2 separate regions of the Homo sapiens genome follow, and region 2 is linked to region 1. A link means that fine-mapping ties the variant in region 1 to the expression of a gene that starts in the linked region. Tissue or cell type: whole blood. Region 1 holds a variant in brackets; the other region holds the start of a gene. All regions are shown on one strand. Distances are between the middles of the regions.

Region 1 (6,123 bases):
GTTTTTCTTCTGTTTCTGAGTCACGAACAGCAGGCACTGAAAGCAGTCCCCCAGCCACTGCCGAAGGTCAGTCCCGGAGGTGCTGCCCAGGCTCCAGGCAGATGCGGCAGCCCCGGCCCCAGCCAGCATGGGCTGGAGAAAGGCTCTCTACTGCACAGGGGCCTCACGTGACTGCAGGGCTCTGGGGAGGTGGGGCACCTGTAGCCTGACCCCCACCTTGCTGCTTCCAAAGCTTCCTTGCCCAGGGCTGGGCCTTGTGGGGCACCCCCCACACCGTGGTCTGCCTGCCTGCAGGGTGCCCAGGGAGACCCTCCGCCTTTAGAAGTCCAAGTTCTTTCCCAGCCCCCTCCCTGCCTAGCTGCCTGCCCCTGGCGCCAGACCTGGCCCGCACCACTGGGGCACTGTGTTCCCAGGGGCACCCTCCTATCCCACCAGCCCCAAAGCCCAGCCAGGCACCCTTCCCTGCCACCTCCCTGGGCCCTGCCCCAGCAGCCCAGTCGGCCTCCTCGGGCCTTCTGTCACTCGCTCACACACAGCACCATGTCAGTAAACAGCTAACTCAGGCCTAGGGAGTTAGGTAGGATGGGGGGAGTGGGGTGGGGGGGCAGGAGGGTGTCCCCAAAGTCAGGCTTGGCTGGGGCGAGGCGCTGCCAACCCCTGCCGCCAGGGGGCTCCAAGCTCCACGGCACGATCTGCTCAGGGTGGCCCTTCTTCCACGATCCAAGCCCTAAGAACAAGAGGCTGGGCCTGGGCCCTGCAGAGGGAAAGGGGATGGTGGACGCTGCAGCCACTGAGTGGCACAGGACCACGTGTAACCTCAGGGCAGGGCAGCCAACTCCACAGGCTACATGGATGGAGATGTGGATAGAAGCATCTGCCCTGGGTGGTGTGGGCTGACCCCAAGGGTCTTGGCACCAGGGCTGATCCTGACTTGCTGGTCCCCGAAGGGCGTTGGAGGGTATGGTGCCCATCCCTACTCTGGTCCCATTTCCTCAGGCCCCTGATCCCACAGTGCCTGGGACAGGGCTGTGGGCCCAGGGAGCACCCTCCCTCTCTGACCTCTGCCTGGTCTTTCCGGGAATGGGCCACTGGGCTGCTGGACTGGAGGCCAAAGTCCTGCGGGGAACGTGCGGGAAGAGCAGAGCGTGCAGGCAGCGGAGACTAACAAGAAGCCCTGGCCCAGAGGGCAGGAACAGGTGGACGAACAACCAGATGAGAGAACGTACCAGGCATGCAAGCTAGACCCAGGAATCAACGGGCTGAGGCTTAGCGTCCCCTACGGCGTCCACCAGCCTGACCGCGGGCCTGCTGGGCCCGGGGGGAGGGGCCTTCCTGCTGGGGTCGAGCTGCAGCGCACGGGTGGGCATTAGAGGCACAATAGAGCAGGTTAGTTAGAGCTCCTGGGGGGACAGGGCAGGGGCAGGGCCGAGGCTGGCGATGTAAGGGTTGGCCTGCCAGGACAGCACAGGTAGCACCAAGGGCGCAGGGAGCCGGAAACGTGTGGCTCACACGGGCCCAGGGCGGGCACGTGCACACACACAGGCCTGCACAGGAAGCCAGGGGATTGGCACACAGCAGGCAGCAGGTCCTGCCATCGCTGGTGGACCCTGGTGGGCTCTCACACGCACATGCACAGAAGGGTGCACACACACTAGCTCACAGGCTCTGGCCCATGCAGGGTGTGGCCGGGCAGTGTTGTCCCCAGTGGGTGGGA[G/A]CTGCAAACTTGTCAGTACCCACAGACTGACTGGCGTGAAGGGGCTGCTTCCTGGGCTTGGCCCCACAACCCAGCTGTACCCCAGGGCCCAGACCAGACCCAGCATGGCCTAGGCTGCTCTCCAGCAACCCCTAGACACGGGGCCTCACCGGGGACCTGCCCACAGCCACATGACCACTTACTTTCAAGGGTTCCTTCTCAGAGGCCTCTCCTGCAGAGCTGGCGCCCCGTGGCCTCCGCTCCCTCCGGTCCACCGTGGAGTATCCGTCTGTAGATGGGGTAAGGTGGGGCATGAGGGGCGCTCTGAGGGAGGCCCTGTAGGAGCAGATCTCCCTCTCAGCCCAGACACAGGGGACTCGTGGGACAGGGGCTTTGGGAGACAGCCCCCACCCACCCTGTCCTGGAGATCCAGGCTGGTGCCAGCTCTCACCAACACCCTGCCAACTCTCCAGACTCCCCTCCACTTGTGGGTCAGAGCCCCTGGCTGAGCACTAATCCCTCTCTAGCTGCCCTGTACCTCACCCTCTAAGCACCCCTAAACCAAATATCTCTCCTCCACCCAGCACCATCTACACCCCATAAAACCAGCAGGCCCACTTCAGGCCTTGGTCCCCTCCCGGCACAGAAAACCAACCACACTGCATCTGCACTCACCTGGGCCCAGCGCATCCATGGGGATCACATCCCGGCTGCCAGTTTTCTCGCCCTCTGCAAGGCAGGAGGAGGAGACGGGCTGCATGTGGCAGCCAGGGGGGATCGGGGCAGAGAAGCCCACACAGGGCTGGCCCAGGTAGCCCTAGAGGCTCTCTGTCACTAAGGTGCCCAACCTCTGCCAGCTGGCAGCCTCACCCCAGCTTGACAACAGCGCGGATGCTGTGGGAAGGGAGTAGCCAAGAGGCAGAGGGCAGGGAAAGTGGCCTATGGAAGCCGTCTCAGTGGGAGGCCTGACTCCTCCTTCACCTTCACCCAAGGGTCAGGCAACTGGGGCAGCTGGGGTCGCCACCCTCTAGGCTCCCTAAGCTCCACCACTCACCAAGGCTCTTGTCCACCAGTGGCAGCGTGCTGTCATCGAAGCCCCCAGGACTCAGTGCTCCCTTAGGCCCCTTGGCAGTAGCAGCAGCTGACTGAGACATAAAACACAGACACAGGGTGGGTGAAGCACATGGAGTGGGAATAAGGCAAAGTGAGCAGGGAATGGAAGGAAGGCCAGGGAAGCCGCACCTGGAAGCGCGCCTTGGTCCAACCATCTTTCTGCAAGGTACCACGCAGCTCCTTGTAGCTCCACACTGTCTGCAGCACGTGTGACGCCGCCTTCGCTTCGCGTACCGATTGGCTGTGGGGCCGGGGGCGGGGTCAGTGGTGGCCCCTCCCCCACCTCCGCGGCTCCCCAAGCCACCGACCCCGCCCCTCCACACCTGGAGGCCACGAGAGCCACCAACGCTGGCACCCCGCGTGCCTGCAGGAGCGAGCGCGCGTTATCCAGGCTGTCGGACACGATTTCGTGGATGGTGTTGAGCACCGCCACCACGGTGTCTTCCTCCAGGCAGGCCCCCGGTCGCGGCGGAGCCTGTGCATTGCGCACATTCCGCACAAGCTCAGCCATGGCGTAGCTCCCTGAGGGGCAGGACTAGGTGTCAGAACACACCTCTGCCCCACCTCTCCAGGAAGGAGCAGGGATCCCGCGAGGGCGAGGGGCACTGCCAGGAGAGCCCCTGGAGACCGCCTGTGTGCAGGCGGTCACAGGAGCCCCTGTGAGCAGGGCGCTGAGCTTCAGAGACAGGGCCGGGGGGACTGGAGCTACCTCCAGTTGGGACAGCGCCCAAGCGAGAGGGCCGGGGCCTGGACTCCCAAACCACTCATCCTCCAAGCCCCTCCGATGGGACCCCAAAGCTGCAGGCACAGTTCGGTGCCCAGGCGTGGGCTTTGCAGGCGTCCTCACCGATGAGGTCTTTGTTGCGCCGGTCCAGCGAGAGGTTGCGCAGAGCGATGGCGACGGCGCGCACCACCTTGTCGGTCTCAGACTGCAGCAGTTCCACAAGCACCGGCAGCCCGCGCTCTTTGCGCACTGTGGCGCGGATGTACGTGGCCCACTGCGGAGGCGGGGAGAGGGTTGCTCAGACATACATGCCAGGCACTCTCCCACCTCCAGACGCTGACCGCTCTCTCCAGCTGGACCTTCCTGCTCCCGTGCCCGACAAAGCCCTACCCCAAAAGCTCAACGGCACCTCCACCGAGGTTTTCCCACCGTCCAGGGTGCACGCATTGCCCGCAGCCCATACACCTCTTGGATCCTGGGGTGGTGGTGTGGCCCCTCCTTTCCCCGCCAGCCGAGGCAGGAGCTGCACCAGTGAGGTGCCTGGGATTCCCTCTCTCAGGACTTGCCCACCCTGCCCGACCTGGTCCCTCACCATCCAGTTGCCGGCACTGAGGTTCTGCAGAGCGCCGGCGGCAGCCTCCAGGGTGTTGAAGTTCCGGCTCTCCGTGAGGAGGGAGAGGTAGAGACGTACCACCTCGGGCTGGTACAGCAGCTCAAAGCCTAGGTGCAGGGCAACCGCCACCCACGGTCACCCAGAATCTGCTCTCATCCATCATACCCCTCCCGCTTCCCGCTTCAGAGCTCCCAGGGCGTGGGTGAGCTGGGGCCAGGGATGGGTGTGGATGAGTCACGTAATATTTACTATCAACATATAGTCACCCAAGGGGAAAAGCGTTCCCATTTCACAGAGGAACAAACTGAGGCTCAAATCAGTTGGACCTGCCTGGCAGCAGGAGCATCCAGGAGGCCTGGGGTGGGGAGGGAGGTGTCAACCAGGAACGCTCTCCTAGCAACAAGACCCGCATTTCCCGGTAGGTCCCTGAAGCTATGCATCCTGGCCACGCCCCTGGTAATAGGGCCCACCCTCCCTGGCAACAAGACCAGCATTGGCCAGTAACTGAGAGTTGTATAACCAAGGCCACACCCCTAGCAAGAGGACCTGCTTTCACCAGTAACTGAAGCTGTGCAGAGAGCTACGCCCCCTAGCAACAGGGCCCACCCTCCCCCACTGACAATAGAGCCCACCCTCTGTAAGTCAACTGATGCAGTGCAACCAGGGCAGCTGCCCTAGCAACAGGAGGCACTCTTCCTGGCAACCACTCCAAGTTCCCGGGCAACTGAGGCGCCGTCCTGCTGCTCTGCCCAGTGCTCCAGAAATGAGGGGTCAAAACAGCCTTCCAAGCTTGCCTGTCTCCAAACTGGGGCTTCAGCCTGGCTTGGGTACTACCTCGATCTCCCCTGTACCCACCCAGTGACATTTCATCACACCCTCGCCAGTCCTCATGCCCCATGCTCCCTCTACTCCTGCCCTGCTGGGCTTTCTGCTCCAACACACTCCAAGCACACTCCCCGCTGGGGTATCTGCATCAGCCCTGCTCTGCCTGTAATACTCCCCCACAGCCCTCCTGCGGCTGGAGCCCTCCACCCTGGTGACATGCAGGCTCTTCCAACTGGCTAGGCCCCACCAGGACAGACCTCTCTCTCAAGCCAGATCCCAGCATACAGCCCAATAGGCACTGCCCTGTCCCTGCAGGTGTTCGTCTGGCCCAGCCTCTGAACCTGGATGTGAGCATGCCCGCCTGGCTCCCAGCCCCCTCAGATAACTCAGCTTTGTGGCTAACACAGGAGGCCCTGCCTCCACTGGAGGCGTCCCTCCAAACCTTCCCACCTCTTACGCACCGTGAGGCCGAGCAAGCCCTCGGCCTCTCTGTGCCTGTCTCCCCCAACCTTGCCTGACATGACCCATGGCACTTCCTCCCATTCTAAACCCTCAGCAGGTGTCCTGGTGCTGAATCACCCTCCAGGAAATCCTGCACCTAGGGGCCTGTTTCCCCATCTGTTCCCTGAGGCCCTCCAGGCCTGCTTGATGGCTCAAAGCTTCACTACCAGGGCAATCCTGAGCCCAGACATCCCCCAGTGGAGCTGGCTTCATCTCAGCCCACTCACCTTTGGCGGCCTCAGTTCGCTTGGGCAGGTCTAGCGTGTCAAAGTTCCGGTCCATCTCACCATCCTTCTTTCCTGGAAGGGAAAGGTGGTGGGAGGTGAGGCAGACCCCATATGGGGAATGGGTGTATCAGGAGAGTTGGGCACAGTTCTCTCCTACCCAGGCCCCAAAAGGCACCCCCATGTCCAGGCCTGGGCACCTGTGGGAGTGGAGCACCGTTGTCAGAGTTTGGGCAGACAGTTTAGCCTAGGGGTAGGAGTTGGTGGCAGTGGGGCCTGGGGATGTCCCAGCCCTGCCCCTAGGACTCATCTCCCACCAGGTGCTGGGAGCTGTACCACAGACCCTCCCGGTGGCTCCCTTGCAACTGCCAGGTATGTAGACTGAGGGAAGCCAGGAGCCCTGGCTGGATGGTAGGTGGATACAAGCCAA
Region 2 (5,560 bases), 45 kb after region 1:
ACCTCTGGAGGGAGTGCCAGAGCAAACATGGGAGCCAAGCAGCCCAGATGTGGTGGGTGGGGAGACTCAAATTTAGCAGGATTGAGGGTCAGAACTTGTTCTCCCAGGAGGAACCTTGGTCAGAAGGTCCTTGTGTTTATGCTGAAAAGCCTGACAGGGCAGCTCAGCCAAGAGCTGGGCAGGGGCTGGCTTGGCTGTGCTCAACTACCCTCTCAGCTGGGACTTGAGTCCCTTAGCGAATGTTCTGTGCCCAGTCCTCTGCTGGGCGCTGGTGGACCCCAGAATGGGGGTAGGGTGGGGACAGGGGACAGCTGGGAGCAGACATTGCGGATAGGATGGGGCAAGACTGGGGGAAATGCCTTCCCAGACACGCTGCGGCTCACACTGTCGCCTGATCTAAGGCCTGGATCACCTGCTTAGGAGCTGACCGGCCACTGGCATGGCACACCGGGCAAGAGAGCGCTGACTGCCCCCCTGCATTCAGCACCATCCCAGCTCCAATAGAGTGAGTACAAGATAGGTAACACCTGCCTTGTTTGGACCAGACCTCTAAACACCGCCCAGATCCCAGAGTAAAGGCAGATAAGGCAGTAGTTAAGAAGTAGGAAGAAGTAAAGGCAGCTACCCCAGAGAAGCTAAGGTCGGGAGAGGTGGAGGCTCCCACTGCACCCCCCTGGCCCATACCATAGGGGAGGTTTCCCCCACAGCAGCCTGGGTACTCACCTGAGGTTATTAGACAGCAGCATTAAGAGCCTACTCTAAAAAATACCCACGGGGCACCTTTCTTTTCCTTATTTCTAAATATGCCTGGATGTAGGGAAAGGGAGCTGAAGTCCTTTAGTTCCATTTTAAGTATGTTACATTACACATAGCTAAGAAACGGTGAAATATTGTAAGCAGCCAATATTTAATTATTTAAAAATTAAAATAGGCTGGAGCTCTCAGGCCACCTGCCCAGGGCGACTCCCCAGCAAACCGAGCAGTCTCCCTCAGAGTGGAGATGACATGTCTCCGCACCGGCACCGAGGGGGCGCAGGGCGGCGTGGGGAGGGGGACCCAGGCCGGGGGTCCGGGTGGCGCGCCCTCTCTCACCCCCGAGGCGGCAGGAGCAGCGCGGCGCGAGGACACCTCCGGGCCGTCGGTGCCCCTGAGCTTCCCGGCGGCGCGCTGCCCCAGGAAAGTTCCCGGCCTGCCGCCCCTCGGGCTGTTGGAAAGTTTCGGCGGCTGCAGGGCCCTGGCAGCTAGGCGCCAAGCGTCGCGCGGGGCGGGCACGGCTGCGGGGTCGGGCCGCGCTCGGCTGGAGTGCTCAGTGCAAGACGCCCGGACGGGTAGGGTAGGGCCCCAAGGCCACGCACAAAGAGACCCGCCCCCGCCGGCCCGGGGTCTCGGACGCCGCAGAGCGCGCGGACAAGACGCGGGTGGGGCGGAGATTGGCTCCGACGTCCGGCCCAGACCCTCGCCCGGATCTCGACTCCAGGGATAGGACCCTGTCCGGACCGCTGCCCGGAATGCGTCCCATATCTGCAGCCCCGCCCCCAGTCCCGGCTCCGACCCGAGGCCCCAGCCCCGGGTCCCACACCCCGCCCACTGGCTCAGGCTTACCTGGAGCGCAGCGTGGGCGGCCCCGCAGCGCGGCCTCGGACCCCAGAAGGGCTTCCCCGGGTCCGTTGGCGCGCGGGGAGCGGCGTTCCCAGGGCGCGGCGCGGTGCGGCGCGGCGCGGGTCGCAGTCCACGCGGCCGCAACTCGGACCGGTGCGGGGGCCGCCCCCTCCCTCCAGGCCCAGCGCGCAACCCGAGACCCCGGGCCAGCCCTCCCGCCCTCACGCGGCCCGTGCGCAAAGCGGACCGGGCCGGCGACGCGAATCTCCGCCCCGCCCCATCTGACAGCAAATTTTCCCATTGGTCGAGAGACCCGGCGCGGCACGGCAACCGGCGCCGATTGGGCGGATGCGCGGAGATGACGGCTTGCCATTGGGCCTCCGGGATGTCAGTCCCGGCGGATGACCGGCCCCCTCGCGGAGGGGCCGCGGCCCCGCACCTGCCCGAACCTCTGCGGCGGCGGTGGCAGGGTACGCGGGACCGCTCCCTCCCAGCCGACTTACGAGAACATCCCCCGACCATCCAGCCCCGAGCAGGGACTGGCAGAGCCGGCGCCCCTTCCCCGGACTCTGGCCGCGTAGCCTCCGCCACCACTCCCAGTTCACAGGTATCCTTCTTCAGCGCCTGCTACTCGCTGCGCGCTGCGCGCCGCTCCCTCCTGTCGACATCGAATTGTATTCTTCACGCAAGCCGCGAGAGAGAGTTCTGCTGCTATCCCCATTTTACAGTTGGGAAACAGCCTCAGAGAGGTTCTCACTTGCTTGAACACAGTCGTCTGACCCTGGGGCCTGGGGGCTCTCTCATCCTCACGCCCCTGGGTCCCCGCAGCGGGGAGACGATGGAGGTAGGAGCTGCAGTATTTCCGAGGGCAGGAAGGGACCCCCTCGGTAAACCAGGGGCTCACCTCCCCCACCAGGCCTGGATGTAGAGACCTCTTGGGCTTGTCCCACCCTGCAGGCCCCCCATGGGGCCGCCCTTTCTTACCTCCTCCTGGCATTCTCACAGCCCCACAGCTCTGCGTCTGGGGAGGCAGAGTTGTGCGTTTATGCCCGCACCCCGTACTACTGTCCCATTTTCTTCACCCTACCTGGAGTCAGGAAGAAACGGTGCTTCACTGCCTGTTGAGATTCACGTAGGTTACATTTCCTTGCCAGATTAAGAGCACCTGACATGAGTGGGACCATGACCCTCCGCCAGCTCTGCGTAACCTTGTGGTGTAGGGGGGAACCAGCAGGGATGCTGCCCAGTGGGCTTTTCTAGGGGGAGGTCCTGAGATGACTTCTTAGCCAGTGACCCTGGCTCACGCATGCTGTCATCCTTTCCTGCCCTGGATGCACCTGGAGATGACCAGTTCCTCGGCTCATTGCATTCTCCAAGGCCGCCTGGGGAACCAAACTGCCCACAACCATGCTTATGAGTGGTGGAGGGGTGTGACCAGACACTCTTGTCTTATCCACCCATATTGGGAGTCCAGTGTGTTCATCCAATCATTCCTTGGCCAGGACAAAGAAAATGAAATGGCCCAAGGCAAGAACTCACTGCTGGGACCACCGCTGGGTCCATCTGTGTGCTGGCAGCATGGTGAATCGATCCCAGCTGCCTTTCAGAGCCAGGCAGCTACTATCAATCGATTGGAGCTGGCACTTGACGTGCCAATTGGCCTCCTGGCATAGGGTTGTTGCTTGCTGCTCTGGGAGGGCAGAATGAAGTAGCTGTCCCTAGAATAGGGGCCCTCACAAACCAGGTAGCTGTCATCCTGTGGAGCAGCACCATGGTGACATTCTGGCTCAGGTGCTGTGTAGCTGAGGGGTCGTTTCCTCCATTTAGGAGTAGACGTAATGAGTCCAGCTGTCCCCAGCCATCTCTTCAAGGCCATTGGACCCTGGTTCTGCTGGAGCCCCTCTTCTCACAGTTACCTCATAGTCCTGCACCACCCCCTCCCCACACTTGCAAGAGGGACTGGACAGACCTCTGTTGAAAGAGTGCAAAAGACAGAACCATACACCAAAATCTGTGCAAGTGAGACTACCTCTCCTCTCATCACCACCCCTACCACCCATAGGGTTGCAGAGACCTGTCTGCCCTCGGCAGGCAGGATCATTAGCTGAGGTCAGAGGATGTCGGGGCAGCACCAATTCAAACAGGACTCAGGACCGCTGTCCAGCAGTCGGCCCATTAGGCTGCAGCCAGGGGTCAGAAACACAACAAGGGAGGCTGGGCGCAGTGGCTCATGCCTGTAATCCCAGCACTTTGGGAGGCCAAGGCAGGCAAATCACCAGAGGTCAGGAGTTCGAGACCAGCCTGGCCAACATAGCAAAACCCCATCTCTACTAAAAGAATACAAAAAAAAGTAGCGGGGCATGGTGGTAGACGCCCATAGTCCCAGCTACTTGGGAGGCTGAGGCAGGAGATCGCTTGAACCTGGGAGGCGGAGGTTGCAGTGAGCTGAAATTGCACCACCGCACGGCAGCCTAGGAGACAGAGCGAGACTCCATCTCAAAAAAAAGGAAAAAAGAAAAAGATAAGAAAAACACAGCAAGGGAGACCACAGGGACCAGTAGCCCAGTGTTCTCCCTCTCTCATCCTCTCACCTAGCTCCATGCGGACAGCTGTGAGGCCCCCGGAGAAAGCCACAGAGAGAAAATGCTTTCAGCTGGGTGTCAAGAACTTTTCAAGAGTGGCAGCTGTTGAAATCAAAAGAGTGGCCACAGAAGGTAGTGAGCTTCCTATCTGAGTTTGTGTGCAATTAGAGGTTGGATGCCAGTGAGCCTGTTGCAGCCCCAAGATCCCAGGGCTTAGGTGCCCATCCTAGACCCATTTCATCTGCCGTCACCTGCTTCCTGGCATCGCATGTCATCCAGACTGGAGTGTCAGTGGTGACAAAGAAGATCAGAGTGTCTGCTCTGGCTCTGTCTAGCTGGGAAAAGTATGGCTGGGGGTGGGGATGGCCCAAGGCCACAAGGTATGACAGAACAGGATGCAAACCACCATCTGACATGTTACTGCATCCCTCTTTGTGGGCAAAGGGAAACCTTGGTCAACTCATGTCCAGCTTTGAGGTGCATGGCCTGGTGCTTTGGGGAAGCCCATTCTCCAGGTGCTGCCATGAACCCCAGGGCACAGTCCATCACCCCCAAGCCCCAGATCCCACTTGTCCACCACCACCACCTCTTGGCCCTATAGATTGCATAGGTTTGGCTGCTCAGAGGGAAATCACTGGTACCAGCCCCACATGATCCCACTGCTGGATGGTGGGAGAGACAACCATGTCTGGCTGGGTCTGCGGCCCGCTGGCCATGAGTCCCTGGGCATCTGGAGTCCTTGTAAAAGGTTCTGTTGGGTTCCAGGGGAAACACAGATAAGATAGCAAAAGTGTGGAGCACAACGGGCCCGCATGTAGGTCCAGGTTAGACTCTTGCCGTTGCTGATTACCAGCCAGGCTCTTCCCATCCCTGAGCCCCAGTTTTCTGCAGGGCATCAGGGCACCTAGGTCTTCAACACAGGTTGAAGCTAATGTGGCCTCTCTTGCTTGCCACCTTTTTCAACTTCAACTGAATGACATAACTGCTCCAAGTCTCAGTGTTTACATCTATAAAGTGGGATGAAAGAACTGCTGACCCAGACATTGGGTTTAGAGTGCTTTACACATTATCATTATCCCTAATGTCTTTGTCATCCATGTCATAGTTTTTTGAATGCTCACTTTGAGGCAGGGCCTGAGCCTCTGGGCTTTGACTCTCCACCTTTCTGCCACATAGGCCCAGGCACAGCCCAGAGGCTACAGGAGCAGCGGTCCCAGCTAATGCCTCTGTCCTGTTGGGAGGGCCCCAGTCAGTGCCCACCTGCTCACCCTGCACAAGTCAAGCTGGGCCAGCCCCTCGTCGCTGGGGCCTGGACCTGGATGTGAGCTCAAAGGCTACACTGGGGGGTGGAAGTGGGGGAGGTGGTGGGTGTGCAGGGT

Evidence for each region. PIP is the estimated chance that this variant, and not a neighbour inherited with it, causes the effect.
Region 2: it holds the start of ARVCF, and the variant in region 1 is fine-mapped to the expression of ARVCF in whole blood (TOPMed, PIP above 0.99). The same link has a PIP of 0.9 or more in NK cells and blood mononuclear cells.

What each region holds. Positions count from the first base shown.
Region 1 is chr22:19,969,990-19,976,112 of GRCh38, forward strand. ARVCF (ARVCF delta catenin family member) reads right to left here. Exons shown (of 20, transcript NM_001670.3): 11 at 5,697-5,768; 12 at 4,123-4,250; 13 at 3,654-3,804; 14 at 3,130-3,328; 15 at 2,936-3,047; 16 at 2,748-2,838; 17 at 2,369-2,422; 18 at 1,897-1,982; 19 at 1,227-1,346; 20 at 1-754. The coding sequence ends at 1,239. Among named protein-coding and RNA genes, the nearest start is that of MIR4761, 9.3 kb to the left of the region's middle. The variant G/A (reference allele first, on the strand shown) is at 1,715.
Region 2 is chr22:20,014,987-20,020,546 of GRCh38, forward strand. It overlaps ARVCF (ARVCF delta catenin family member), which reads right to left and starts at 1,837. Exons shown (of 20, transcript NM_001670.3): 1 at 1,603-1,837. It also overlaps a transcript of TANGO2 not described here. RefSeq lists a silencer at 1,729-2,128.